Homo sapiens: one gene and its partner. The protein of the gene in region 2 purifies or fractionates together with the protein of the main gene of each other region. This does not show direct contact. Each region holds a gene or a part of one and is shown on either strand. Other genes may lie near its edges.

Evidence for each region. Proteins that work in one complex are often made in the same cells at the same time.
Region 1: the proteins of ANGPTL2 (region 2) and GEMIN2 purify together in Homo sapiens (co-immunoprecipitation; one large-scale study listed by IntAct). This does not show direct contact.

What each region holds. Positions count from the first base shown.
Region 1 is NC_000014.9:39,120,823-39,124,322, reverse strand, and holds part of GEMIN2 (gem-associated protein 2), read right to left. Parts: intron 1,894-3,500; coding exon 1,780-1,893; intron 1-1,779. UniProt on the Homo sapiens protein: The SMN complex catalyzes the assembly of small nuclear ribonucleoproteins (snRNPs), the building blocks of the spliceosome, and thereby plays an important role in the splicing of cellular pre-mRNAs.
Region 2 is NC_000009.12:127,091,636-127,095,135, forward strand, and holds part of ANGPTL2 (angiopoietin-related protein 2 precursor), read right to left. Parts: intron 2,292-3,500; coding exon 2,098-2,291; intron 306-2,097; coding exon 35-305; intron 1-34. UniProt on the Homo sapiens protein: Induces sprouting in endothelial cells through an autocrine and paracrine action.

The sequences.
Region 1 (3,500 bases), on a different chromosome or scaffold from region 2:
CTTCAGCTAAAGCTAATATTTTCAAGAATTAAGGACACTTGAATTAGAATGACATTTTTAAAACCTAATTTGATTCAATTTTTAAAAGTCTACTTTGGAGTCTGAGGCTGTGATTGCTAATTATGAAAATACCACTGATTTGTGAGAAACTTAAGAGGATATACATTAAACGCTTACTTCCTTAAGGGTTTTTTTTAACATGGTGTATTTTACTTGTATGTATTCTCTGAAAATAAGCTAAATAAGTAAGTTTTAATTCTTTATAAATTAAAAACCATTTTTGGCTAGCCATGATAGCTCATGCCTATAATCCCAGCAGGAGGATTGCCTGAGCCCAGGAGTTTCAGGCCAACCTTGCAACATGGTGAAAACTTCTCTCTACAAAAAAATTTTTTTAAAAAATTAAAAAACTTATCGCTACAAAAAATTTAAAAATTAGCTGGGTGTGGTGGTGGGTGCCTGCTGCCCCTGGTATGTTGAAGGCTGACGTGGGAGGATTGCTTGAGCCCAGGAGGTTGAAGCTGTAATGAGCTATGAGTGCACTACTGCACTCCAGCCTGGATGACGGAAGAAGACCCTGTCTCAAAAAAAAAAAAAAAAAAAAAAAAAAAAAATATATATATATATATATATATAGCTATTTTTGAAATGTAGCATATGTTAAGGATATCATCCAAAAGATCAATTGGTTATATAGAAAGAGTACCAAATTAACTTCCCTAAGATTTGAGTCTATTTATACTCCTGTACCACGTCTAAGAGTGCTTGTTTCCCCAGCTCTTGTCAATATGGTGTATCAAACTTTCTTGGCCAATATGTTACCTGAAAAATAGCACCTTGGCATAGTTATGTTATACTTCTATTACAAGTGATTTTTGGCATCTTGTCATATAAGAATAATTTTATTTCCTTTCTGTGAGGTATCTATATCCTTTGGCTATTTTTTCTTGGGCAGGGGAGGGGTGATTCTTGGTCTTTTTATTGATTCTTGGGGCTTTTTACATTTTTAGGAAAAATTAGTTTTAAATGTGAAAAACACAATGTGGCACCATATAGCAAATAATAAATACCTGTTGAACTGAAAAGAACTACATGCTATAGGGAGTAAGCGCTAATGCAGAGGCATGCACTGGATTCTCAAGGAACACCTGCAAACTTGGGGGCAGGTAAATCCTGAAGGACAAGGAGTTGTCTACATAACTTATGATTACAGCCACATGAATTTTAAAGATATCCTCAACATTTCATCTTTAGAATATGTGATTTATTTTTTACAGGCCCATGAAGTGATAGATGTGATTATGCATTTTAAAGCATCTAATTGTGTCGATTTCCATTTTTTCCCTGGCTACTCATAACACTGTTTGCCTGATGCCTCATCATTTAAAAAAACTATGAATCTTATCCAACTCATAAAATGATTACCAAGCCAAACATAAGGGATATGAAGCCAAACTAAAAAAAGTCACAGTAAATTGTTTCAGAAACTAAGCTGTTTTGTTAGGTTGAAGAGCTAATAAACTAAGTCTGGGTTGGCAAACATTTTCTATCAAGAGTCAGACAGCAAATATTTTAGGCTTTGCAGGCCACATAAAGTCTCAGCCACATATTATTTGTTTCTTTTTTACTCTTTCAAAACCTAAAAACAATCCTTAGCTCATGGATATAAAAAAGGCCATGAACTGGACTTGGCCCAGGGTAGAGTTTGCTGACCCCTTATATTAAGTGGTGCACCAAAATTAAAATGCTTTTTGTTCTGTTTATCCACACAGCCCTTACTTGTACATAATCTATTCCAGGACTTTCATTTGTGGCTGGTCCAACAGCCCCGTCAGCACATAACTTTTCACCCAGACAAAATTTCTTCCAGCCTTCTTCATCTTCAGATTTTGGCTAAAAGAAAAAAAAAAAAACTGATTTATTCCTGTGTATTAATTTTTACACTGAACAGTAAAAAAAAAGAAGTTAAGTCCTTCCATATTCCCATTACCGCAACCCAAAGATACGGAGCCAGTTATGGGGAGAATCTCTGCCCCCAAATTTGTATGTTAAAACCTTAAACTCCAGTACCTCAGAATGTGACTGTATTTGGAGACAGGGCCTTTAAAGAAGTGATTAATTTAAATTGAGGCCATTAGGGTGAGCCGTAATCCAATCTTACTAGTGTCCTTATAAGAGGAAATTTGGATTCACAAAGAGACACCAGGGACTCCCACACACAGAGGAAAGACCACGTGAGAAAACAGGGAGAAGGTGGCCCTATGCAAGCCAAGGAGAAAAGCCTCAGAAGAGACCAACCTTAGGCCGGGTGCGGTGGTTCACGCCTGTAATCCCAGCACTTTGGGAGGCCGAGGCAGGCGATCACATGAAGTCAGGAGTTCAAGACCAGCCTGGCCAACATGGCAAAACCCCACCTCTACTAAAAATACAAAAAAAAAAAAAATTAGCCGGATGTGGTGGTGCACACCTGTAATCCCAGCTACCCAGAGGCTGAGGCAGGAGAATCACTCGAGCCTGGGAGGCGGAGGCTGCAGTGAGCAGAGATTGCGTCATTGCACTCTAGCCTGGGCAACAAGAGCGAAACTCTGCCTCAAAAAACAAACAAACAAACAAAAAGAGACCAACCTTGCTGCCACCTTGTTCTTTGACTTTCAGCCTTCAAGACTGAGAAAATAAATACATTTCTGTTGTTTAATCCACCTAGTCTGTTATGGCAGCCCTGACAAACATAGTGCCTAAGTGGCTACACAATATGTGGGACATGTTGTTTTTCCTTATTATTACATTTTTTGAGACAGGGTCTTGCTCTGTCGCCCAAGTTGGAGTGCAGAGGTGTGATTACAGTTCATTGCAGCCTGAATCTCGGGCTCAAATAATTCTGCCACCTCAGCCTCTTGAGTAGCTGGGACTACAGGCATGTGCCACCATGCCTGATAATTTTTAAATTTTTTTTGTAGAGATAGTTGTCTCACTATGTTGCCCAGGCTGGTCTCAAACTCCTGGCCTCAAGCAATTCTTCTGCTTTGGCTTCCCAAAGTGCTGGGATTACAAGTGTGAGCCACTGTGCCCAGCCAAGATGTGTTTAGTTTGGACAAGACTTTAGTGGACACTGACAGACAATGGTGTGTCCAAAAGAGGATGATAAAGACAGAAATAAGTATGGGGGAAAAAATGCACCAAGAACACTTAATAGAATGAAGGATATTTATCCCATGTAAAGAGACATGATTACATATTTCACATATTTGAAGGGTTGTCCAGTCAAAGAAGAAACAGATCTACTCATGCTGCCAGACAGAAAAAGCAGGACGCAGGACTATTTGGGAGAAGCATTCAGCTCAATATAACCTCCTTAACAAAATAACCTTTGTTTGTACATATCACCTTGTATATTACTTTGCATAGGTGCATTTTCCCCCTAGGGATAAGTAGCTTTCATTAAATCCTTAGGATGAATCACCTGAGGTCAGGAGTTCGAGACTAGCCTGGAAATATGGTGA
Region 2 (3,500 bases):
ACCCTGCACCTGGGTTTGACTCCACTTTTCCTACCTGTGTAGACATCATGATCTCTGTCCAGGGTGGTGAACTGCTTGCCGTTGTGCCATGTAAAGGAGTCACCCGCATTGCCATGGTAGCGCCCCAGCCGCAGCTTATAATACTCGCTCTCAGGTTCCAGGCGGAAACTGGCGTATTCTGCAAAGACTTTGCGGCCGGACCAGTCCTCCATGGTCACCAGGAGTTTGTAGTTGCCTTGGTTCGTCAGCCAGTAAATGTTCTCCAGGCCCAGCCAGTATTCGCCGTCAATGTTCCCAAACCCTTGCTGGGGAAAACCCAGGAGAGTGTTAATGTGGAGCCTGCAGCACCTGCAGCCAGCAGGCTTGGCTGTCAGACACTCAGCCCTGGATAGAGGGGCCTGGGAAACAAGCAGAGCATGAAGCAGACCTGGTTCAGACCCCTACTCCACCTCTTAATCTCTCCATGACTCACACATTATTCAAAAATATGTAGAGTGCCTACCCTGTGCCAGGCATCATGTGAACCCCAGATTCCTTGTTCTTACATCAGGGAGGCTATATTACCTTCCCCACAGGCTTGCTGCAGGAACACGTGTGCTGTGGCAGGTGGAGGGCCTGGCACTAAGTAGGCACGCAGCAGGCATTCCTCAGACAAATCTCTGACCTTCACTGAGCTTCACCTCCTTCTCTGGAGATGAGCTGTGTGTGAGGGTCACGTGTAAGCTGTAACGCACCAGACGGGTGTGAGCTGTGACGCATGTGTCCCATCCACCGGCGCTCCCCTCTAGGTCTAAAACCCAGTGGTTTTGTGGTTATTGTTTTTTTTTGCATGTGGTTTTGGGGTCAGCAGCTGAGTTACGGCCACTAAAGTCTTGGGAATCGGTGATTCATTAATACAATAATTATTTAGTATTGAGCGCTTGTGATGTGCTGGCACTGTTTTAAGAACTTTACATAGGTTGTTTTACTAATCCTCATGTCAACTCGAAGAACTAAGTGCTATCATTATCCTCCCTAGTATGGATGAACTGAGGCCCAGAGAGGCTCAGGGTCTCAGAATGCCTGAGGGTGAACCAGGATTTGAACCAAGAACCCAGTCTTAATCATTGCACTGTATTGCCTCTAAGAAAGGAGGAGTCTCCCGCTCCTAATGTAGGTGGAAGAGGAGAAAAAAGCAGAGACACAGGCTGTTCAGGAGGTGGGGTGGGGGACAACCAGGACAGGAGACTCAAGAAGGGGCATGGCAGAGCCATGTGTGCAAGGCATCATGGCTTCAGGTAGTTTGTGAGCTTCAGTGTCAGAGGCCTCAGCTGCAGTCACTACTGGGCCAATTCCTGGCTTTGCAACCCTGAGCAAATTACTCCACACTTTCATCTGTAAGCTGGGTCCATAACAGAACCTCCCTCAGGAGGTTGATACGAGATTAAACAAAATAATGCACGAAAGCCCTTAGCATGGTGCTGGCACGGGTTGGGCACTCAGCAAACAGAGCCACTCTTGCCTTCCTTAGTACTACCTCTGTTTAGAGGGGGAAGAACGATGTATGACTGAGTCCTGGCAACTTTCCCTGCTACACAGATGAGCATTTCAACTCCCTGGGAACCAGGGAGCCCAGAGGATGAGCCTGGAATTAGGACTTGAGCATTGCCACAACTCCCTACCAGGACTTTTTGGGGGATTCTCCCAGGAACTGGGAGCCTCTTGGGACTTGCGCCTTCTGGGCTTTGAGAGCGGGTCTTTCCCCATGGAAACCCCACTTGGGAGTGAAATGCTCCTCACCCCTGGGCCCCCATACCAGCGTTTCTAAACTCTCACCCTGTCCTGTGGGGCTGTGGTGGTCTGGTCTACTGACTCTTGTCCTGCAGCAGTTTCTAGCAGCAGGCAGAGGAGGCGCTGGTCCTCACTACCCCTGGTGGGTTTGCAAAATGGCCCTGTCTGCATCCTTCTCGCCTCAGGTATATGTGTTGTTGGGGCCGCACAGGCCTGGGCTTGGTCAGCATGTACCTCTGAGTGGGCTCTTCTATTGGTTGCTCAGGCCTCTCTTGGGGTGGGCCAGTCACCTTGTGGGCAGCACAGACATCCCCTGCCGAGTCTCACCTTGTACGTCTCCCAGTTCCTGAAGAAGTTAACAGAGCCATCCAGGCGTCTCTGGATGACGGTCCAGCCCCCGGGGTCGTGTCTCTGGTCGCACCACACCTGCATGAGGCGGTTGGTGTTCTCCGGCTTCACCAGGTAGATGGAGCTGGTGTCGTGGCCATCCTCCAGGGCCTGCAGGCAGTCTCTCCATGGGCCTGGGGACACAGACATGCATATACATCACAGACCTGCCTGTCACCAGGCCGCACCCCCAGCTGCACCCCAAGCAGGCACAACCTCTGTTGAGGCTCCAGCTGGGAGCCACAGGCCCACGGTCTGAGGTAACCAATTTTTGTTTTGCGAGTTTAATAAGTAATTATAAAGACAAGAGCCTCGGACCAGGGGTCAGGATGCCCATACTCCAAGCTCACTTTCTCCTCTCACCCGCCTCACAGTTTGACTTTTGGCAGACTTCTTCATTCTCCCAGCCCCCAGTTTCTTCTGATTGTAGAAGGAAGATCAGATTTCCCTCATATAGTGTTGTCAGGATTACTGAGATCATTTGGGGGAAGTTGCTGGAGTGATCTTTTTCGTGTTCATTATATTAGGAAAAAGAGATGTGGACCTACTAAACGTGGCAACATCAGTCAGTGCCTGCAGGCTCTGATGGCTTTGCTTCTGCAAGGAAACTCAGTTCCACTGGATTACTGTTTCTGGGGGCCAAGTACAGTTGGCACCCTTCAATTCTGACTCCACGTCTGCCCTTCCAGTGACAGTGCTTCGTGATGACTGCTGCAGCTTTTACTAAATGAACTTCCACAGTCACAGGGGCCTAGGCCATGCCCAGAATTTGGCCATGTAGCCAGAGACTTTGGGATATTTCTGCAATTCATTCACTGCTCTTCAAGTGTGTTTTTAGGGGGCCAGGTTCCCTTTCAGCTGAATCTGTGTGTTTTCCAAAGGAAGCTCAGTGAGGGCCAGATGCTTGGCACTCACGCATTCTGAGGTCCTCCTTGCAGGCTCATAAACTTAAAGGATGATGTCCAGGATACAGCCCAATCCATGGCTCTCTTCTGAAACTGAGACCAGAGGGTTCTGTGATTCTTTGTGACTGCACTGAGCTTGGGCAGCCCAGTCAGAAGGAATGGGTGTTATACCACTGGTCTTTTAGCCCTCCCCACCCCTGCCCATCAACTCTGCCCTCCCCAGGCAGTTTCTTATGTTCCATTGTTGGTCACATCAGCAAGAAGGTACAAACTTGAGTCACCAAGGGTCTGGACAGGCTGGGGCCTTTCTCATTGATCTGAGGAAGCTTTAGAAGGTCAAGGCCTAGCCATTCAGATGAAAATGGCTGAAAGAAAGAAAATCACATTTTGCTTCAGTCTCTTCAAAATATTCCTCATAGGGCCGGGCACGGTGGCTCA